Regions from separate parts of the Homo sapiens genome. Here region 2 is linked to region 1. Evidence: fine-mapped expression QTL. A gene starts in region 1. The other region holds a variant in brackets. All regions are shown on one strand. Distances are between the middles of the regions.

Region 1 (13,846 bases):
TTTTAGTAGAGACGGGGTTTCGCCATGTTGGCCAGGCTGGTCTCGAACTCCTGACTTTAGGTGATCCGCCCGCCTTGGCCTTCCAAAGTGCTGGGATTACAGGCCTGAGCCACTGTGCCTGGCCTTCCCTTCCTGTGTTTTAATTTTCATCTTGAAGCAAACAAAATTGCCTTATTTTTGTGGTTCATGGTTTGTTGTCCTCTCGTGGACTGTTGGCTCCCATCGGGCAGGGATCTTTGTCTCTTTCTGGTTTGTTGATGTATCCTAGCACTCCGTGCAGGGCCTGGGATGCAGGGACGGCTCATGTTGAATGGGGTTGGGAGAAGGATGGGAAAAAAGGGGCATGAGGGGGCATTCAGGTGAGTCCTCCTTTAGGTAAGACCGTCAGACTCAACTGCTTTGAGGAACTTACCCTGGATGGAGAGGAGCCACTCAGGAAAAAATTAGGGGAATGAGAATGTTCCCGTCACTGGTGGAAATGTAAAATGCAAAGGCCCCGAGGCGGGAATAAAAGCCTGAGGGTTCGAACAACTGCAAGGAGGGCTGTGTGACCAGCATGAGGAGGGTACGTAGCAGAAGTTGTTAGCAAGGTAAGCTGTGGTCAGAACAGGTACAGCTCCTTGGAATAATTGTAAACACTTTTTTTTTTTTTTGAGATGGAGTTTTGTTCTGTCACCCAGTCTGGAGTGCGGTAGCGCCATCTCGGCTCACTGCAACCTCCACCTCCCAGGTTCAAGCGATTCTCCTGCCGCAGCCTCCAGAGTAGCTGGGATTACAGGTGCGTGCCACCACGCTCGGCTAATTTTGTGTTTTTAGTGGAGATGGGGTTTCACCATGTTGGCAAGGCTGGTCTCGAATTCCTGACCTCAAGTGATCCACCGGCCTCGGCCTCCCAAAGTGCTGGGATTACAGGCATGAGCCACCGCGCTCAGCCTTGTAAACACACATTTTAAGCACCCACAAAGTCCCTGCATGTTTTAAGTCATCGTGATTGTCATCATTTTCTAAAGCAAGAAATTGAGGCTCGAAGAGGTGCCTGCACCTGACCAAGATCTCTTAGGTGGTGAGTGGCAGAGCCAATCCCTGAGCCACAGGCCATTCTAGCAGACACTTACCCATCCCAGCGGGGTCTTCTCTTGACCGCCCCATATGTGCCAAATCTGCAGGCTGACTGTTGCTCCACTTCCTTGCCCTGGGGGACAGAAGTGGGAGAAACCTGTAGTCCCCACCTAAGCAGTGTCCCCCACCAATATCTGCAAAACCCTGTGTCCAGTTACTCTGTACCAGTGAGTCTCAACCAATCAAGGTGACCTACGTCCAGGGGACTCTTAGCAACGTGTGGAGACATCTTTAGTTGTCACAACTAGTAGCATCTAGTTGGATGGAGCTCAGGAATGCTGCTCAGCACCCTATGATGCACAGGACATCTCCACCTCCTCCCCCACAACTAAGAATGTTCGGGCCTCAAAAGTCAACCAAGGCCGGGTGCGGTGGCTCACACCTGTAATCCCAGCACTATGGGAGGCTGAGGCGGGCGGTCACGTGAGGTCAAAAGTTCAAGACCAGCCAGGCCAACATGGTGAAACCCTGTCTCTACTAAAAATACAAAAAATTAGCCAGGCGTGGTGGCTCATGCCTGTAATCCCAGCACTTTGGGAGGCCGAGGCGGGTGGATCACTTGAGGTCAGGAGTTTGAGACCAGCCTGGCCAACATGGTGAAACCCCGTCTCTACTAAAAATACAAAAAATTAGCCAGGCATGGTGGTGCACGCCTGTAATCCCAGCTACTCGGGAAGCTGAGACAGGAGAATTGCTTGAACCCGGGAGGCGGAGGTTGCAGTGGGCTGAGATCGTGCCATTGCACTCCAGCCTGGGCAACAGAGTGAGACTTCGACTCCAGAGAAAAATAAAAAATAAAAAAGTAAAAAAATTAGCTGGGCGTGGTGGTGCACTCCTGTAATCCCAGCTACTCTGGAGGCTGAGGCAGGAGAATCGCTTGAACCTGAGAGGTGGAGGTTGCAGTGAGCTGAAATCATGCCACTGCACTCCAGCCTGGGCAACAGAGTGAGACTCAGTCAAAAAAAAAAAAAGTCAACCATTGAGTTGGAAAACCCTGCGAGTGTTGGGTGTTCTCAAGGAGGCAGGGAGACTGTGAGTACCTGAGAGGCTCTATCCGAGCTGGGCCATCCATCAGGGTGTCCTCGCTAAAGCTGCGTCGCAGAGGCCCCTGCCAAGTCACAGGCCTGGAGACCACAGCCCCTGTGGCCTGGGACAGTGGGCGCCTGCCTGTCATATAACTGTGAACCAGAGCCGGTATGCTGGGGAATTGCTCATCCTCCAGTTGAAAGAGGGCTGTGGGTCGGCCTGGCCGGGGACGCAGGGCCACACGGAACACCTCAAAATGGAGGGCTGAGCCCCGCCAGCGGCAGGAGATCACGGGGTTGCCCCCACGGGACCCAGAGGCGCGAACCAGGAAGTCGCCATTTTGCTGAAGAAGAGCTTCAGCCTTCTGTGGATGAAGTTCAGGGGGCAGGGGAATTAGGAATGAGTCCAGGGCAGTGGTTAATGGTAGCTCCCCCCACCATTGCCCCCACCACCCAAGAAAAGCTACCCCAGTGAAACTTCTGTGGCAGGCAAAGACGGGGAACTTTCACACCAAGTTCTGTCCCCCTTTCTCCTGGCACCTACGTAGACTACATTTCCCAGGTTCCCTTGCGGCTAGGGTTGTCATGTGATGAGAACTGGCCAATGGGATGTGGGGTAGAAGGGCTATGGGAAATATCCAGACCTGGCGCATAAAACCCTGCTGCACAATCTTATAGGTTGTGTCCCCTGTCTGTCAGCTGATATCCCCCAAAGCCCAGAGGGATGACAGAGCTACAAGATGCACTTGGCTCCCAACTGATTTATGGAGCTTTGCATCTCTGCTTCTCAACCACCTTGGACTATGACATTAACATGTTGACTGTGTTTAGCTGGTGATATCTTGGGAATGTTTGTTACAGCCACTAGCTGATGCTGACCAATGCAACATCTAATTTGGTAAATGCACTGTGCTTGTTATGCAAATGTGGCTTCAAGAGAAGCCATTAGCTGGATGCTTCCAGATTGGGGCCCCCTCTTTTATAAACATTTGCAAGCAGTCTTATGCCAGCTGTGGTGGCTGGTGTCAAAATAGGGTAGGAAGGGTGGGGCACAGTGGCTCACACCTGTAATCCCAGCACTTTGGGAGGCTGAGGTAGGCAGATCACTTGAGATCAGGAGTTTGAGACCAGCCTGGGCAACATGGCAAAACCCTGTCTCTACCAAAAAATATAAAAATTAGCTGAGCGTGGTGGTGTGCACCTGTCATTCCAGCTACTCAGGAGGCTGAGGTGGGAGAATCGCTTGAACCCAGGAGGCAGAGGTTGCAGTGAGCCGAGATGGAGCCATTGCACTCCAGCATGGGTGACAGAGTGAGATCATGTCTCAAAAACAAAAAAAAAACAAAAAAAAAAACAAAAAAAAGGCTTGGGGAGGCAGGTAGAAGGGCCAGGACCCCAGAGAGAGGCAAAGTAGAGCTGAACATGGGGTCTGGGGACTAAATAATAGATGTAGCAGACACACGTGTGTAGCCCTTACTATATGTCAAGCACTGCTTTAAATGTAAAGGGTGTTAACTCTTGTAATTCCTGTAACAAGGGTGGTAGGTATTATTATACCTTTTTTTGTTGTTGTTCTTTGGGACGGAGTTTCACTCTTGTTGCTCAGGCTGGAGTGCAATGGCACAATCTCGGCTCACTGCAACCTCTGCCTCCTGGGTTCAAGCGATTCTGCTGTCTCAGCCTCCCGAGTAGCTGGGATTACAGGTGCATGCCACCATGCCTGGCTACTTTTTTGTATTTTTAGTAGAGAGGGGGTTTCATCATATAGGTCAGGCTGGTCTCGAACTCCTGACTTCAGGTGATCTACCCACCTCGGCCTCCCAAAGTGCTAGGATTACAGGCATGAGTCACCATGCCCGGCCCATTTTTTTCTTCCGGCCTTTTTTTTTTTTTTTTTTTTTTGAGTCAAGGTCTCTCTCGATTGCCCAGGCTGAGTGCAGTGGAGCACTCATGGCTCACTCACAGCCTTGACCTCCTGGGCTTAAGCAATCCTCCCATCTCAGCCTCCTGAGTAGTTGGGACAACAGGTACATGCCACCCATGCCTGGATAATTTTCGCTTTTTTTTTTTTTTTTGTGTAGAGACAGAGTTCTGCTATGTTGCCCAGACTGGTTTGGAACTCCTGACCTCAAGTGATCCTCCTGCCTCAGCCTCCCAAAGTGCTGGGATTACAGGCATGAGCCAACATGCCTGGCCTGCTATCCCTATGTTAAAGATCGGGAGACTGAGGCCCAGAGAGGTCAAATGTCCTGCCCAAGGTCACATACAATATAAATTGTAGGGTTTGGATTTGAACCTAGGGTGTCTGGGTCTCAATTATGGGATTTTAACTATTAAGTTCTACTGCCTCTCATGATTTCATGAGATGCTCAGGGTCCCAGAATTTTTGGGGGTGACAACTGAGTTTCAGATGGAGGTGGGAGCCTCAGATTTATTTGTTTGTTTATTTATTTATGTTTTTGACAGAGTCTCGCTCTGTTACCCAGTCTGGAGTGCAGTGGCACAATTGTGGCTCACTACAACCTCTGCCTCCTGGGTTCAAGAGATTCTCCTGCCTCAGCCTCCCAAGTAGCTGAGACTACAGGCGCATACCACCATGTCTGGCTAATTTTTGTATTTTTATTAGAGATGGGGTTTCACAATGTTGGCCAGGCTGGTCTTGAACTCCTGACTTCAAGTGATCCGCCCACCTCGGCCTTTCAAACTGTTGGGATTACAGGCGTGAGCCACCATGCCTGGCTTGGGAGCCTCACATTTAGAGGGAAATACCAGGAGGTAGATGGAGTTCAGAGGGAGAGACGGCCAGAGCCAAGAGTAGTTTGGGGGCATTAGGACTCTCCTTAAGCTCCATCACCAATCTCATCATCCCAAAGAAAGTGATAATTTAAATATAGTGACAGTCCCCAGCCAGCCAACCTTCAAGACAGTCCCCAGCCCTCTGCCACCTGTCCCAATAGACCTTGGCACTAAGTCCCTCATCCAGGGACCCAGGAATCCTCAGCAAGGGTGGGAGAGGCTCCCCACCAGATGGTGCTGAGGTCCTGCTGTGGGTGGTACCTGGCGGGACAGGAGGCCGTGGTACCAAGGTTGGCCAGCAAGGTCTTCTCCATCCTGTGGCACCTGCATGGAGCTCTTGGGAACAGAGGGTGCCAGGGCTGAGCTCTGCACTTTCAACAGGCCTCAGTCTTCCACATCTGTAAAAGGGGAATAATTAGCCCTGCTTGAGTGTCTGGGTCAGCTCCTTTCATCCTCTTCTTAATTTTGGAGACAGCTCCATCAAATCTTTTTTTTTTTTTTTTTTTTTTTTTGAGACAGAGTCTCATTCTATCACCCAGGCTGGAGTGCAATGGTGCGATCTTGGCTCACTGCAACCTCTGCCTCCCAGATTCAAGCGATTCTCCTGCCTCAGCCTCCCAAGTAGCTGGGATTACAGGCATGCACCACCACACCCAGCTAATGTTTTTTCTTTTTTTATATTTGTAGTAGAGACAGGGTTTCACTGTGTTCGCCAGGCTGGTCTTGAACTCCTGACCTCAGGTGATCCACCTGCCTCAGCCTCCCAAAGTGCTGGGATTACAGGCATAAGCCACTGCACGCAGACTTTTTTTTTTACATTTAAAGAGAGAGGTCTTATGTGTTGCCCAGGCTGGAGTGCAGTGCTATTCACAGGTGTGATCATAGCACACTTTAGCCTTGAATTCCTGGGCTCAAGGAATCCTCTAGCCTCAGCCTCCCAAGTAGTTGGGATTACAGATGTCACCATCGTGCCTGTTCCAAATATAATGCAATCGAAGAAAAAAAAAATGGCTGAAGATGACAACATGCCACCCCATCTTGCAGAAATGTAATTAATGAATTCACTGAACCCCTATTTATTCAGCACCTTATGGGGTCCCAGGCTCTGTTCTAGGCCCTAGAGACATAGCATTGAACAAAACAGATGGAAATCTCTGTCCTTGGGAGCTGACATTCTACTGGGGAGCAGCACCTCAGAAAAGAACTAGATGATGGCATACATGAGTGAGTGCTAGACAAAAAAACTAAACCATGGATGGGATATAATGAAAGTACAGGTGCTAGGGTGAACACTCTTTTTTTTTTGAGACAGAGTCTTGCTTTATTGCCCAGGCTGGACTGCAGTGGTGCAATCACAGCTCATTGCGGCCTTGACCTCCTGGGCTCAAGTGATTCTCCCACCTCATCCTTCTGAGTAGCTGGGACTATGAGCGTGGGCCACTGTACCTGGCTAATTTTTTTTTTTTTTTTTTTTTTTGAGATCAAGTCTCACTCTGTTGCCCAGGCTGGAGTGCAGTGGCATGATCTCAGTTCATTGCAACTTCCGCCTGCTGGTTTCAAGCAATTCTCGTGCATCGGCCTCCTCAGTAGCTGGGACTACAGGTGTGTGCCACCATGCCTGGCTAATTTTTAAAATATTTTTAATAGAGATGGGGTTTCTCCATGTTGGCCAGGCTGGTCTCGAACTCCTGACCTCAGGTGATCCACCCTCCTCAGCCTCCCAAAGCACTGGGATTACCAGCATGAGCCACTGCGTCTGGCTGTGCCTGGCTAATTTTTAAATATATATGTAGAGATTGGGTCTTGCCACGTTGCCCAGGCTGGGTGAACATTTTTGATCATGTGACCAGGAAAGGTCTCATTGAGTAAAGTCTGGAAGGAATTCTGGGGAGTGTGCCAGGTGACTCTGGGTGAAAAAACATCCCAGTCAGGGGGAATTTAACTTACAAACATCCATGGCTTCTCGGCAACCTATGCGCACACTCAGAGGTTCTCAGGATAGGTGCAGATCTAACCCCTATTCTTTGCTTTAGAATGCAACGCTGGGGGCCAGGCGCGGTGGCTCACTCTTGTAATCCTAGCACTTTGGGAGGCAGAGGTGGGTGGATCATCTGAGGTCAGGAGTTTGAGACCAGCCTGGTCAACACAGTGAAACCCCGTCTCTACTAAAAATACAAAAATTAGCCAGGCATGGTGGCGTGTGCCTGTAGTCCCAGCTACTCAGGAGGCTGAGGAGAGAGAATCGCTTGAATCCAGGAGGCAGACCCTGCAGTGAACCGAGATCACACCACTGCACTCCAGCCTGGGTGACAGAGCAAGACTCCGTCTCAAAAAAAAAAAAAAAAAAAAGAATGTAACCCCAGGGTTAAGATTTTTAAAAGGTCACATTTTGTAGCAATGTCAGCAAACAGCAATGTTGCCTTTGCAGATCCTTCTATTTCGGAGCCCATACATGTGGTTATCATGATGATTGAATTTGGATCTCAGACATTTTGGTAGTTTCCCGATAATCTCACAGGCCTCAGGGCCAGTGTGTCTCAGGTGTCTGGTGGGGGAGATTTCTCTGGATGGTCCAGAAGAAGATAATCTGCTTCTTACTCTCCTGCAAGCTCTCCCTGCAGCCCTGCAAAGTCTTCTGGTGGGGTCTGCAGAGAAATTCCTGCCTCCTGAGTCAGCAGGAAGTTCCCAGACCAGCCCTAGGTGGCTTTAGGGGAGGAGCGCTGGGCAGGGAGCCAGCTGCCAGTGCCGCATACCTGAAGCCAGGTGTGTCTTTGCAATGCCTGCGCACTTCCTGTTTGTCACCTGGACCAGGGCTAGCCTCGGTCGCAGAGTTTCCCAACCCCAAGTTCCTGTCTTGTGTCTCCCTTAGTGAGAGTGAAGTTGAGTCAATGGCAAGGTTCTGGTTAGTTTGAGGACACAGGGTGGCCATAGGTCAGCCAAAGGCCAACTAAGCCATCTCCTGCCTCTGAGTCCTTTGGGATCATTTATTCGGGCACGGAAGAGAAGAAACGGGCAGAATCAGGAATCAGACCAAGCATAGAGAGAGGAGAGAGGGGATTATTCATGTTCCAGTTGGATCATAAACATGTGTCCACGTGTGGGGAGGACGTGGAGGGTGGGAACCACCAGCACAGGCAACACAAACACAGATGTAGGCAGGACTCGCTTTTGACGTTGGACGACCATTGCTGGAGCACTTGCTGTGCACCAGGCTCTGTTCTAGGACCTAGAGATACAGTGACTAAGGAGATTAAAGCTCGGCACCACCCTGCCCTCCAGAGCTTGCAGTCGGCTGCGCAAGACAGACTGCAAACGAGCACAAGATGAATGGAGAAGACAGACCATTTCTAAGAGTTATCAATGAAAGTGATAAGCCAGGGAGATGTGATAGAGGAGGCTGGACAGGACAGCCTCTCCTATAAAGTGACATTGGAACTGAGACCTCAGTACAGAAGGAGGCAGTTAGGCAAAGATTTGGAGGAGTCGCCTGGGTGAGGGGTACAGTAAGGGTAAAGGCCTGGAGCTGAGATGGACTTGCTTTTTACATTTTACATCATCAAGGCGGCTGGTGTAGCCGGAATACGATGAGGAAGGAGTAGATAGGAGGGCAATGAGGTTGGAGAGATCAGGAGGAGAGACTAGGCAAAAACTAGTGGACTTTGAATTTTAATCTCTATGACCCAAGGGTTTTAAGTGAAGGAGGGGCCCGATCTGATTCGCCGTTTAAGAGGATCACTCAGGCAAAAATGGAAACAATGGCTTTCTGTGCTGCACAGGAAATACACTTAGAGAGGCACGCCCAGGTGAGCCCGAGCACACCGACACGCGTAACGCACAGCGACCCTCTCATTCGCGAGGCGACCTCTTCTACCCCAGATCCTCCCTGCGAGCCGGTGACCCCACCTGGAAAGAGAGGACTCCCCATCCCAATAATCCTGGTTCTGGATCTGCCCTGGGGCTCCACTCACCTGGGCAGGACCCGCGGGGCTCCCACGAGGCTGGGTCCAGGCGGAAGCTGAGGCTCCGCGGCTCCGGGCTGCTGTCACCCCCGCCCTCCACCTTGCCACCGCCCCAGCCTTCCCAGACCACACCTAGTGGGAACTCAGCCCAGTTACCTGACCACACCTCCTGCAGACCCCGCCCCCTGCGGGCCCCGCCTCAAACTAACTTCCCAGGCCCTTGCTCCGCCCCCTTAAAACCATTTTTTTTGCTACTAGCCACGCCTCCTTCTGCATCGCACCGCTTTCTCCATAGACCCCGCCCACTAGGGGAGCACCACGCATCCTTTCCTGCCAGTGGCCCCTCCCCTTGTATATAGCCACGACCACCGCCGAATGACTACGCCCACCCGCAGCCACCTCCTTCTCAGCCCCGCCCCTTAGGGCAATAGAAGAAATTTCATCCCAACGTTCCCGCCCCTTAGAACCCTGCCCCTCCCTTCCACCCAGGCGGCCCCAAGCACCCATGGCCCTTTGGGACCAGGGCGGGGTGGAGTGGGGTGCCTCTCTCCCCTCCCCGCCAAGGCTCCGGGTCAGGGCAGGGCAACTCCCTCGGGCTCTTACGCCAGGCTGGGGTAGCTGCGGCAGCTGTGACGTAAGGAGGGGTACGCTTCCTCCAGACCGCCCTCCCGGATTTTCCGGAAAGAAGCCCCATTTAGGTGGCGGGTTTTGTGGAGAGACGTCCGGGAAAACGCGACAGCTTCCTTCAGTGACAGCACGCTGGAGCGGGGCGGGACTTTGGTGGAGGTGGAAGGCAAATCATTCAGGTGGTTTCCCAGGTGGGAAGAAGGGTGGGGGGGACTTCCATCGTGATGCCTGGAGACGAACAAGAGAAAAGGTGACAGGGACCTAGTGCAAGAGAGAGGACTCTTTGGCCACGTTTATTGATGAGTTCCTCATATTAACATCAGTCTTGTCTTGTAGAGACAGGGTCTTGCTATATTGCCCAGGCCGGAGTGCAGTGGTGATCATAGCTCACTGTAGCCTCAACCTCCTGGGCTTAAGCTATCCTCCCGCTTCAGCCTTCCAAGCAGCTGAGACTAAAGGTGCACACCACCACACCCAGCTGATTTTATTTTATTTTTTGTAGATGTGGCGTCTTACTATGCTGCCCAGGCTCTGGAACTCCTGGGCTCATGCGAACTTCCTGCCTTGGCCTCCCAGAGCGCTGAGATTACAAGCAAGCATGAACCACTGTGCTTGGCCCCAGTAACCACAGTCTTAAAAGCAGTAGCAGCAGCTAACATTTATTGAGCACTTACTGTACACAAGGGCTGTTCTGTCAACTTGCCTTTATTTTATTTTATTTTATTTTTTGAGATGGAGTTTCACTCTCGTTGCCCAGACTGGAGTGCAGTGGCAGCAGTCTCAGCTCACTGCAACCTCCACCTCCCCGGTTCAAGCGATTCTCCGGCTGTAGACTCCCGAGTAGCTGGGATTACAGGCTAATTTTTGTATTTTTAGTAGAGATGGGGTCTCGGCCAGACTGGTCTCAAACTCCTGACCTCATGTGATCCACCTGCCTCGGCCTCCCAAAGTGCTGGGGTTACAGGCATGAGGCCTCTATTTTAATTTTCAAACAGACCACCCTGTAAGGGTGGTAGGTAGTATTTTCATCACTTCCATTTTCCAGATGGAGAAACTGAGGCACAGGGCAACTAAACCATTTGCCCAAGTTAACCTGGCTTGTAAGTGGTAGAGGCGAAATTCAAACCCGGAGCTCTGGAGCTTTATCCTGTCTGCCTCCTTTTCAATCTTCGCATGCCCACTTTCTCCACGATGCTGCTTTGCGGTGAAAGTTACTCACCCACCATTTTACAGATGAGGAAATTGAGGCCTAGAGGGCCAACGATGCTTGGGGATGAAAAGTTTTGATGCCTGTAGGTTGCAAAGCAGGGAATTTCCAGACTGGGCTCCCCCGACTGGCCCTGGCAAATATGGAAGAGACTCCAGGCTCAAGAGGGGAAGAAAGTTTCTTCCTTATCCCTCACCGGTCTGGTATTGGTACAGTCAGAGGGTAGGGGCATGTTCAGGGAAGGGGTCTAGCGCCTCCTCGTGGTTATAATAATTTAAAAAGAGGGCCCAGCACTTTGGGAGGCCGAGGTGGGCAGATCACCTGAGGTCAGGAGTTCCAGACCAGCCTGACCAACATGGTGAAACCCTGTCTCCACTAAATACAAAATTAGCTGGGTGTGGTGGAATGCACCTGTAATCCCAGCTACTGGGGAGGCTGAGGAAGGAGAATCACTTGAACCTGGGAGGCGGAGGTTGCTGTGAGCAGATTAGCTGTGTGTGGTGGCATGCACCTGTAATCCCGGCTACTAGGGAGGCTGAGGAAGGAGAATCACTTGAACCTGGGAGGCAGAGGTTGCTGTGGGCAGAGATTGCACCATTGCACTCTAGCCTGGGCAACCAGAGTGAAACTTTCTCCTAAGAATAATAATAACGATAATTTAAAAAGAAACTCCATGATGAGGGCCACGTATTAGGTGGACGGGGGAGGGCCTGCTTACACTCTACTGGGGTGGAAGCTAGGGATGGGGGCAGAGAGACCTAATCTCATGAAGATGATTTCAGCTAATGATAAGGTAATGGCCGGGAAGCCAGTAAATGTTTGTTGAATGAGTTAATGAAAGACACTATTGGGCCTGGCACAGTGGCTCGTGCCTGTAATCCCAGCACTTTGGGAGGCTGAGGCAGGTGGATCACTTGAGGCCAGGAGTTTGAGACCAGCCTGGGCCACATGGCGAAACCCTGTCTCTACTGAAAATACAAAAATTTAGCCACGCATGGTGACACCTATAATCCCAGCTACTCGGGAGGCTGAGGCAGGAGAATCACTTGAATCTGGGAGGCAGAGGTTGCAATGAGCCGAGATTGCGCCACTACACTCCAGCCTGGTCCATAGAGCAAGACAAAAAAAAAAAAAAAAAAAGACACTATTGTAGTCTATAAGGAGAGGGATGATGGTGGCTTGGATTTGGGTGGTGACCATGGACATGGTGATAAAGGGATGGATTTGGGATAAATGTCAGGTGCAGTCAATAGAGCTTTCAATTATTTATTCATTCAACAGGTATTTAAGGGGCATGCCTATGTGTCAGGTGCTGCATAAGAGAGGGGTCAGTAGTGAACCAAAGAAACATAAATTCTTGAACAGACAATAAAGAAACAATGATGAGCGGGTGCCATGGCCCACGTCTGTAATCCCAGTACTTTGGGAAGCCGAGGTGGGAGGATTGCTTGAGGCCAGGAGTTCAAGACCAGCCTGGGCAACATAGTAAAAGCCCCTCTCTGCAAAAAAATTTAAAATTAGCCAGGCACAGTGGCACAAGCCTGTAGTTCCAGCTACTTGGGAGGCTGAGGCGGGAGGATCACTTGAGCCCAGGAGTTTGAGGCTGCAGTGAGCTATGATCATGCCACTGAACTCCAGCCTGGATGACAGAAGAAAGAGCCTGGGCACAGTGACTCAAGCCTGTAATCCCAGCACTTTGGAAGACCAAGGCGGGCAGATCACTTGAGGTCAGGAGTTTGAGACCAGCCTGGCCAACATGCTGAAACCCTGTCTCTGTGAAAATACAAAAATTACCTGGGCATGGTGGCAGGTGCCAGTAATCCCAGCTGCCTGGGAGGCTGAGGTCAGGGAAAACCTGGGAGGCAGAGCTTGCAGTGAGCTGAGATCATGCCACTGCACTCCAGCCTGGGTGACAGAATGAGACCCTGTCAAAAAAAAAAAAAAAAAAAAAAAAAAAAAGCCGGGCGCGGTGGCTCACGCCTGTAATCCCAGCACTTTGGGAGGCTGAGGCAGGTGGATCACCTGAGGTCAGGAGTTCGAGACCAGCCTGACCAACATGGAGAAACCCTGTCTCTACTAAAAATACAAAATTAGCTGGGCGTGGTGATGCATGCCCGTAATCTCAGCTACTTGGGAAGCTGAGACAGGAGAATCGCTTGAACCCAGGAGGCAGAGGTTGTGGTGAGCTGATCACACCACTGCACTCTAGCCTGGGCAACGAGAGTGAAACTCCGTCTCAAAAGAAAAAAAAAGAAGAAAGAAGCCTGGCGCGGTGGCTCACGCCTGTAATCCCAGCACTTTGGGAGGCTGAGGCGGGCGGATCATGAGATCGGGAGATCGAGACCACGATGAAACCCTGTCTCTACTAAAAATACAAAAAATTAGCCAGACGCGGTGGCGGACGCCTGTAGTCCCAGCTACTCAGGAGGCTGAGGCAGGAGAATGGCGTGAACCCGGGAAGCGGAGCTTGCAGTGAACTGAGATTGCGCCACCGCACTCCAGCCTGGGTGACAGAGTGAGACTCCGTCTCAAAAAAAAAAAAAGAAGAAAGAAACAAAGAGAGAAAGAAAGGAAAGAAAGAAAGGAAGGAAGGAAGGAAGGAAGGAAGGAAGGAAGAAAGGAAGGGAGGGAAAGAGGGAGAGAAAGGAAGGAAGGAAAAAAATAACTTAAAAAATCAGATTTGTTGGACAAAGATCAGGGCTTAACCTAGGGAGGTGGGTAGAGCTAATGGAATGCGGAAAAGGCTGTGATTTGAAATGAGGGGATTTAGGAAGACCTCATGAGAAGGTAGCATTTGAGCAAAGACATGTAGGGGTGAGGGAGCTAGCCATGAAGTTGCTTAAGGTGGAGGACACAGCCCGTGCAAAGGCCCTGGGGCAGGGCCGTATGTTCCTGGCATGTTGGAGGAAGAGCGAAGAGGCCCGTGTGGCTGGAGCACAGTGAAGAGGGGGAGAGAGGGAGTGGGGAGGGCAGGGAGGGAACTGGGCAATTCAAGCAGGGTTTTGTGGGCCTTGGGGAGGACTTGGGCTTGTCCCTGGAGGAAAGTGGGAGCCATAGAGAGTTGTGGGCAGAAGAAGGGTGTGCCCTGACTCAGATGCTCACAGGCAACCTCT
Region 2 (9,513 bases), 18 kb before region 1:
TGAGACCTCATCTGGAAAAAAAAAATTAGCCAGGTGTGGTGGCGTGTGCCTGTGGTCCCAGCTATTTGGGAGCCTGAGGTGGGAGGATCACTTGAGCCCAGGAGTTTGAGGCTGCAGTGAGACGCAATCATGCCGCTGCACTGCAGCCTGGGTGACAGCAAGACCCTGTCTCAAAAAAAAAAAAAAAAAAAATCTACTCAAGGGTTGGGGTTAAGGAATATGGACCAGAATTTGTCATCGCTTCAGGGATTACATTCTTGGGGCTTAACCCTTTTCCACCTGGAGGTGCGTCCTGGGGCATCAGCCTGCTCGGGAGGAGGGGCCTGACTCCCTGTTCCCCGATTCTCATCCAACCCCAGATTCAGCCAGCAACAGTCCTTCGTACAGATTCTCCAGGAGGTGAATGACTTTGCAGGCCAGCGGGAGCTGGTGGCTGAGAACCTCAGTGTCCGTGTATGTCTTGAGCTGACCAAGTACTCACAAGAGATGAAACAGGAGAGGAAGATGGTGAGGAGCCCCCCGATTCAGGTTTTACAAAGGGCTTCTGCTGGAACCCTGGCGAGCCTTATCACTCTTCTTTCTGTAGCACTTCCAAGAAGGGCGGCGGGCCCAGCAGCAGCTGGAAAATGGCTTTAAACAGCTGGAGAATGTGAGTTTGCAGAGGTAGCAGTGACTGTGGCCCGGAGGCATGGGGGCAGGGTTGCGGATCCGGAGTCAGGGAGCTGCCCTCTTTGTCAGACCTGGACCTTCCCTCCCCCATAGGCTTCCAGTACTCCCTTGACCCCTACTTACTGGATGACATCCCAATAATCCCTGAAACCTTGGTTTCCCACCCTGCTGTCTTTGGGATGGTGGCTCCCTCACTCCGGTTCTGTCCCCTACACAGAGTAAGCGTAAATTTGAGCGGGACTGCCGGGAGGCAGAGAAGGCAGCCCAGACTGCTGAACGGCTAGACCAGGATATCAACGCCACCAAGGCTGATGTGGAGAAGGTGTGTGTGGCGGGGGCGGGGGGGGGGTGCGGGGTCTGGGACAAGCTTGGGGAGTCCGAGTGGGACGTGATCGGAACCTGGCAGTACCTTCCACCTCTGCATTCTTCAGGCCAAGCAGCAAGCCCACCTTCGGAGTCACATGGCCGAAGAAAGCAAAAACGAATATGCGGCTCAACTGCAGCGCTTCAACCGAGACCAAGCCCACTTCTATTTTTCACAGATGCCCCAGATATTCGATGTGAGTGCTCCCAGTTCTCAGACCTACCTTCCCGAAAGCCTCCAAATGTTAGCCAACTCCTACGCATTCATCAAAACCCCAGCTGCAATGTCCCAGTCCCTAGATTGAAAGGGAATCAGAAACCTATAGTAACAGTGAGCTGTGCTTTTAGTCAGCTGTTCTTCCTGCTGGGCATGCCTTTTACTTGTTTGTTTATTTACTTCTATAGAGAGATGGGGCCTGGCTCTGTCACCCGGGCAGGAGTGCAGTGGCATAATCACAGCTCACTGCAGCCTGGAACCCCTGTGCTCAAGTGACCTTTCTTTCTTTTTGAAATTCCTACTTATTCTTCTAAGCTCCACCTCTAACAACCCCTCTGAAAGGTCTCGAATTTCCCCTCTCCTGTTTCAATCTAGCGCTCCACTCTCTGTCCCATCCGTGGCCCTGGGAGTATCAGGGCTGGTTCTGCTTTTTCTTCAAATCCCTGTTCCCTTGTCTCCTCCTTTGAGAAGCCTTTGCTGACCCCCTAGGCACGCGTCCCCCTCTGAGATCCCCCTGGCCCTGTGTCTCTTCCCCAACCACAGTGGGCTGGAGTCTCTCTTCCCGACTCTGTCTTCCCCTCCAGACTGGCTTGGGGCTGGGGCCAGCGTGGAGCGCGATCATATTTGCAGAGTGAATCACTGTGCTTCTAGTCCCTCTGTTAGCACCCCTGAGCCACCCTTGTCCCTGTCCTTACAGAAGCTCCAAGACATGGATGAACGCAGGGCCACCCGCCTGGGTGCCGGGTATGGGCTCCTGTCGGAGGCCGAGCTGGAGGTGGTGCCCATAATAGCCAAGTGCTTGGAGGGCATGAAGGTGGCTGCAAATGCTGTGGATCCCAAGAACGTGGGTGCCTGGTCTGGGTCCACTGGGCTACGGGAAGGGCAGAGGGAGGTACCCATAGGCTAGGCACTCGACTGCTCATCCACTGTCCCCCTCCCCCAGGACTCCCACGTCCTTATAGAGCTGCACAAGTCAGGTTTTGCCCGCCCGGGCGACGTGGAATTCGAGGACTTCAGCCAGCCCATGAACCGTGCACCCTCCGACAGCAGTCTGGGCACCCCCTCGGATGGACGGCCTGAACTCCGAGGCCCGGGTCGCAGCCGCACCAAGCGCTGGCCTTTTGGCAAGAAGAACAAGGTGGGGGCCGGGACCCTTGGGATGGTGGGGGAGAAGGACAGTGAAGTGGGGACAGTGGGGCCCCTATTGAGTCAGCCCCAGCCGCCTGAACGCCGAGTCTCGGGCAGGAATTTTCCTCTTGGCTGCCAGCCCGGACTGGAGGGAAGGAAGGCGGCCGATTGGCCTGGGAGTCCCCCGAGGCGAAGGCGGGGGCAGGGTGGGGAGGTGGGGAGGTCCGTGGCGTTTGTCTGCTGCTTCTCGGGATGCTGGGAGAAAACCTGCTGGTGGAATTCAGGGCTGGCCTGAGGGCTGGTGACACCATCCCTGGGGACTCCCCGAGTTTCTCTCTCCATCCTGCTGATGGGACTCTGGGAGCCGCCCTGCATGTCTTGCTTTCTTGGGTTTTTGGATTTTAATATACCTTAGCACCCTTGGTTTATACCTTTGATTTATACTTTGGGTCCCTCTTCACTTACACTCTCATACCTCTCCTTGACTTAACACCTGTGATCCCCGAGCTTAAACTTCTGATGCCCCTAACCCCTCTCATTTTCCTGCCTTCCACTCCCTCTCGGCTTGTGGTTTTATTTTTGTTTATTTATTTTTGTCCTCTGTGGCCTCTTACCTGTCTGAGACCTTGATTCCTGCATGCGTCTTCTAGACTGTCAGCCCAGAAAGCTAAGTGGACAGAGAGACATGGGCCTCCCTGCCTCCTGGACCCATGCTTGCTCCCGGACATAACATTCCAGAGACCTAGGAGATACCGGGGGAGTGAGAGTTCTGGCTTTCGGGCTTACAGTTCAACATCCTCCCCGCCACCTTCCAGATTTTTTTGTGTCGCTCCTGCATGCGTTTTCTCTGTGTGGTTGTGCATCTTGAGTTGTGGTTTTCTTACCGTTTTTTTTCTTTCTCCATTTTGTTTTTCCTTTTTCCTTTTTTTGCGTCCATCCGTCCATCCGTGCGTCCATCCCTCCGTCCATTCGTCCTCACTCTCTACATCCTCCTATGCCCCCCCACCCCTTCAACCTATCCCCCTCCCCGGCCCCCGCCGGTAGCCTCGCCCCCCACCCCTCTCCCCCCTGGGGGGCCCCGTACCCTCGGCATTGCCTAACGGACCCCCGTCCCCCCGCTCCGGCCGTGACCCCTTGGCCATACTGAGCGAGATCAGTAAGTCGGTCAAACCGAGGCTAGCATCCTTCCGCAGCCTTCGAGGCAGCCGTGGGGTAAGTGAGGCCTCGGGGCAGGAGGAGGTGGTGGCCCTAGCCTGCCCAGCGGCGGGTGGCGGGACCCTGGGCTCGCTTCCTGCCGCTGGCTGGGCCCCTCTTCCCTGGTTGCCCAACCCAGACCTGCTTTGCTCTGTGCATGGCTTCGCTGTCAAGAACCATGGCTGGGGAAGGGAGTGAAATATCTCAGACGGGTGCAGAGTCTGGCAGGCTAGACTCCTTGATCCCAAATTCAGCCCTCT[A/C]CCCACCTTGCAGACAGTGGTGACCGAGGATTTTAGCCACTTGCCCCCAGAGCAGCAGCGAAAACGGCTTCAACAGCAGTTGGAAGAACGCAGTCGTGAACTTCAGAAGGAGGTTGACCAGAGGTAAGGTGGTGGGGTAGGGAAGGACAGGCAAGGAACATGATAAAATAGTAAATGAACTTCACTTATTTGTTTATTATTTTATTTTATTTATTTTATTATATTTTATTTTGTGACAGGGTCTTAGTCTGTCGTCCAGGCTGGAGTGCAGTGCTGTGATCTTAGCTCACTGCAATCGCCACATCCCAGGTTCAAGCAATTCTTGTGCCTCAGCCTGCCGATTAGCTAGGACCACAGGCATGCACCAGCTAATTTTTATATTTTTAGTAGAGGCGGGGTTTCCCCATATTAGCCAGGCTGTCTTGAACTCCTGGCCTCAGTTGATCTGCCTGCCTCAGCCTCCCATAGTGCTGGGATTATAGGCATGAGCCACTGCCCGGGTCTGTAAATGAATGACATTTAAATGGTACTCAAAGATCTCCCCAATAATCCCAAGGCCCCGACGGTTTTACAGGTGATTCCTACCACACTTAGTTACTTCTTGGCCAGGTGCAGTGGCCTGTGCCTGCAATCCCAGCATTTTGGGAGGTTGAGGCAGGAGGATCATCTGAGCCTAGGAGTTTGAGACCTGCCTGGGCAACAGAGTGAGACCCCATTTCTAGCAAAAATAAAAAAATTAGCTGGGTGTGGTGGTTTGTGTCTGTAGTCCCAGCCACTTGGGAGGCTGAGGTGGGAGGATGGCTTAAGCCTGGGAAATGGAGACTACAGTGAGCTGTGACTGCACCACTTGCACTTCAGCCTGGGTGTCAGAGTGAGACCCTGTCTCAAAAAGAAAAAAAGAAACAGTTACTTCTTGTCTTATACAAGTCATTCCAGCAAACAGAAAAAGTGTGAAAGCTGTCAACCTCTTTAGGCTGAAGAATCCTGATTCCCAAATCTGTGGCCAAGAATTCAATAAGATAAAATTAAGGGCTCATTTTACCTTATTTATGATCATAGAGGCAAAATCCTAGCCAAGCAAATCCAGTGTTTAAAAAATAATACATCACTTTGGGAGGCCAAGGAGGGCAGATCACGTGAGGTCAGGAGTTCGAGACCAGCCTGACCAACATGGTGAAACCCCGTCTCTACTAAAAATACAAAAACTAGCTGGGCATTGTGGCACGCGCCTGTAATTCCAGCTACTCGGGAGGCTGAGGTGGGAGAATCGCTTGAACCTGGGAGGCGGAGGTTGCAGTGAGTCAAGACTGCACCACTGCACTCCAGCCTGGGTAACACAGCGAGTCTCTACCTCAAATAATAATAATAATAATAATAATACATTAGCCGAGCACAGTGGCTCATGCCTATAAGCCCAGCACTTTGGGAGGCTGGGTAGAAGGATCACTCACTTGAGCCTAGGAGTTCAAGGCCAGCCTGGGCAACGTAGTAAAACCCCATCTCTTAGAAGAAGAAGAAGAAAAACCCAAGTAAATTTTTTTAAAAACTAAAAAAAAAAAAATCCACCATTGGTTGGGTTTTATCCCAATAATGCAAAGATAGTTCAATATCAAAAAATGTATCCATCTAGTTCACCACATTAATTGGCTAAAAGAAAAGCAGCATATGGTTATCTATTTAATAGCTCAAACACTTAAAATATTGACAATAAAAAAATCTGGCAGATTAAAAAAAAAATCTTTACTCACTCTTTCCAGGCAACAAAATCCTCTTCCCAGTTCTGTTACATAATAGGAATGATGTTTGCCACTTGCAAACAGGCAGCCAAATTATATTTTGCCATTTGCATGTAACCTCTTGGACAGAATGGCTTTTATTGGTGTAAAGTTCCATTCAGAACTCTCTAGTTCCTGAGTTTCTACGGTGGAGGGGTTAAGGGTGCATGTTCTAGAGTCACGACAAACTGGACTTGATTTCCAGCTTCATCTCAGGACTTGGGCAGCCTGTTTTACCTTTTAATTCCTCAGTTTCTTCATCTGTAAAGTGGATCAGGTATTAGAACTGGAATGAAGTTGGCAGGGTGCAGTGGTTTATGCCTGTAATCCAAGCACTTTGGGAGGCCGAGGCAGGCAGATGGCTTGAGACCGAGTTTGAGACCAGCTTGGCCAACATATGGAAATCCTGTCTCTACTAAAAATATAAAAATTAGCCAGGCGTGGTGGCGTGTGCCTGTAGTCCCAGCTACTCCAGAGGCTGAGGCACGAGAATCACTTGATCCCGGGAGGCACAGGTTGCTGTGAGCCGAGATTGCGCCACTGCATTCCAGCCTGGGCGACAGAGTGAGACTGTGTCTCAAAAAAAGATAAAAAATAACTGGAAGGAAGTTGAGCTCAGATCTGGTCTTTTCCAAAGGTCCATTATAGTCGTGACTACCTGTATATATAGACATAGGGGAGACAGGGATGAGAAACTGATGATAATGATAACAGTATTTATTAGTCACTTACTGCATTCTAGGCACTATTCGAAACAGTGTACATGGATTTATTCGAATTTTCAAGGTTTCCTGAGAGATTGTATGCAGACTTAAGATCTGTCTTGTTTAGTGTTATATTTATCTTTATTTATTTTTTCCCCTGCCCCCCCTTCTTTTTTTATTTTTTAAAAATTATTTTGATTTTTTACTAGAGACAAAGTCTCACACCATTGCCCAGGCTGGTCTTGAACTCCTGGCCTCAAGTGATCCTTCCACCTCAGCCTCCCAAAATAATGCTGGGATTACAGATGTGAGCCACCACGGCCAGCCCAGTGTTATATTTCTGATGCTTGGAATAGGACCTGTATGCAGTAGGTACTCAATATGTATATGAGTAATAGTGAGGACTTACTAGGTATCAGGCATTGTATTAATCCTCACAGTGACCCACATGAGATATTAGGATCATTATCTCCATTTCCAAAATAAGCAAACAGCAGTGGGGGTTCAATGATTTAAGCCAAGCTCACACAGCTAGGAAATATTCAAACTGAGATTCGAACCCAGGCAGTCGGGCACTAGTATTTGCATCCTTAACCATTGTCCTGCCTTGCTATTTGCTCCTTGATGCAAAACCCCTGTTTTTTGCTTGTTAAATCACATGGAGCCCGGTGCTGTGGCTCATGCCTGTAATCCCAGCACTTTGGGAGGCTGAGCCAGGAGGATCCCTTGAACTCAGCCTGGGCAACATAGCCAGACCCCATCTCTACTAAAAATTTTTGAAAAATCAGGCGAGTGTGGTGATGCGGGTCTATAGTCCCAGTTACTCAGGAGGCTGAGGCAGGAGTATCACTTGAGCCCGGGAGGTTAAGGTTGCAGTGAGCCATGATTGCACCACTGCACACCAGCCTGGGGAAAGAGTCAGAATGAGACCCTGACTCAAACAAAACAAAACAACAGCAACAAAAAAACTCACACGGAAGTATGTTTTCCTGTCTATCCTGTCTCCCTTGTCATAGGGAAGCCCTAAAGAAAATGAAGGATGTCTATGAGAAGACACCTCAGATGGGGGACCCCGCCAGCTTGGAGCCCCAGATCGCTGAAACCCTGAGCAACATTGAACGGCTGAAATTGGAAGTGCAGAAGTATGAGGTCAGGAAAGACCCTGGGGAGGGGCGGGAGCCAGCGGGCCTGGCTGAGTCACTGCTGGGTGGGGTGGGGGGTCGGGGACAGGGGAGGTGTTCGGAGCGGGGGGTCTCCAGCTGTTTTCCATCACAGCCTTGGCTGTGCGTGGGTGATCTCAGGGAACCTCTGGGTCCAAAGTGGGCTGACCCCGGAGCTCTGCCCTGGAACGATTTTCCTGTCCCCTCCTCCCAGGCGTGGCTGGCAGAAGCTGAAAGTCGAGTCCTTAGCAACCGGGGAGACAGCCTGAGCCGGCACGCCCGGCCTCCCGACCCCCCCGCTAGCGCCCCGCCAGACAGCAGCAGCAACAGCGCATCACAGGACACCAAGGAGAGGTGAGGGGTGACGTCAGAGTGGGTCTGTTCCCAGGGTCCCAGGAGGGCCTGTCTTTATCTGCCGAATTATCCCCAAACAGCTCTGAAGAGCCTCCCTCAGAAGAGAGCCAGGACACCCCCATTTACACGGAGTTTGATGAGGATTTCGAGGAGGAACCCACATCCCCCATAGGTCACTGTGTGGCCATCTACCACTTTGAAGGTGAGAACGGCCAGAGTGGGCTTGGCGGGGTATGGGAGGCAGTGTCTCTGGCTAGGTTCAGTTTAAATTCGCCTAAAGCAGGGCTGGGCGGGTGGCTCAGGCTTGTAATCCCAGCACTTTGGGAAGCTGAGGCAGGCAGATCACTTGAGGTCAAGAATTCCATACCAGCCTGGCGAACACGGTGAAACCCCATCTCTACTGAAAGTACAAAAATTAGCCAGGTGTGGTGGCGCACGCCTGTGATCCCAGCTACTCGGGAGGCTGAGGCAGGAGAATCCCTTGAACCTGGAGGCAGAGGTTGCAGGGAGCCAAGATCCGTGCCACTGCACTCCAGCCTGGGCGAGAGCGAGGCTCTGTCTCAAAAATAAAAAATAAAAATAATAAATTTTGCCTAAAGCAGATCTGGGCCCACCCCCACCCCCATCACAGGGTCCAGCGAGGGCACTATCTCTATGGCCGAGGGTGAAGACCTCAGTCTTATGGAAGAAGACAAAGGGGACGGCTGGACCCGGGTCAGGCGGAAAGAGGGAGGCGAGGGCTACGTGCCCACCTCCTACCTCCGAGTCACGCTCAATTGAACCCTGCCAGAGACGGGAAGAGGGGGGCTGTCGGCTGCTGCTTCTGGGCCACGGGGAGCCCCAGGACCTATGCACTTTATTTCTGACCCCGTGGCTTCGGCTGAGACCTGTGTAACCTGCTGCCCCCTCCACCCCCAACCCAGTCCTACCTGTCACACCGGACGGACCCGCTGTGCCTTCTACCATCGTTCCACCATTGATGTACATACTCATGTTTTACATCTTTTCTTTCTGCCGCTCGGCTCCGGCCATTTTGTTTTATACAAAAATGGGAAAAAAAAAAAAGAAATTATATAAAGTTCCTAGAGTCGGTGTCTTATTAGAGGATTTAAATACTGGGACTGGAAGTATCTAACACCACGTTTCTTACAGGCCACACAGGGAATGAGGAAGGGGAGGTGATCTTGGGCACACCTTGGGTCAACCCTGCCCCTTTCTGGAAGTTGGCCTATGTCATTGTCAGTGGGTGTCTGCTTGTGACTCAGGTAGGGAGAAGGATACCAAGTTTCTTTTTTTTTTCTTTTTGAGACAGTCTCACCCAGTTGCCCAGGCTGGAGTGCAGTGGCGTACGTGATCTCAGCTCACTGCAGACTCCATCTCCCGAGTTCAAGCAATTCTGCCTCAGCCTCCCAAGTAGCTGGGATTACAGGCACACACCATCATGCCCAGCTAATTTTTGTATTTTTTGTAGAGACAGGGTTTTGCCATGTTGGCCAGGCTGGTCTTGAACTCCTGACCTCAAGTGATCCATCTGCCTCGGCCTCCTAAAGTGCTGGGATTATGGCGTGAGCCACCGCACCTGGCCAGGACACCCAAGTTTCATCCCTTCTGAATGCACTGCAGCTTCTGAGAATGGGTAGCACTTATTGAAGACCTACTGTGTGCCAGGCATTCTCCACCTGGGGTCTC

What was found.
Region 2: its variant is fine-mapped to the expression of SH2D3A in whole blood (TOPMed, PIP above 0.99).

Annotation. Positions count from the first base shown.
Region 1 is chr19:6,758,479-6,772,324 of GRCh38, forward strand. It overlaps SH2D3A (SH2 domain containing 3A), which reads right to left and starts at 8,957. Exons shown (of 10, transcript NM_005490.3): 1 at 8,909-8,957; 2 at 5,202-5,338; 3 at 2,160-2,509; 4 at 1,116-1,192. The coding sequence starts at 5,270. RefSeq lists enhancers at 2,352-2,852, 6,447-7,347 and a silencer at 9,436-9,495.
Region 2 is chr19:6,742,608-6,752,120 of GRCh38, forward strand. It overlaps TRIP10 (thyroid hormone receptor interactor 10), which reads left to right. Exons shown (of 15, transcript NM_001288962.2): 4 at 360-507; 5 at 587-649; 6 at 887-991; 7 at 1,101-1,229; 8 at 1,947-2,093; 9 at 2,193-2,387; 10 at 3,422-3,589; 11 at 3,845-3,954; 12 at 7,327-7,459; 13 at 7,685-7,824; 14 at 7,905-8,026; 15 at 8,456-8,923. The coding sequence ends at 8,604. LOC124904623 (a long non-coding RNA gene) reads right to left here and starts at 5,980. Exons shown (of 2, transcript XR_007067109.1): 1 at 5,844-5,980; 2 at 5,557-5,749. RefSeq lists enhancers at 165-1,084, 3,136-3,636. The variant A/C (reference allele first, on the strand shown) is at 3,832.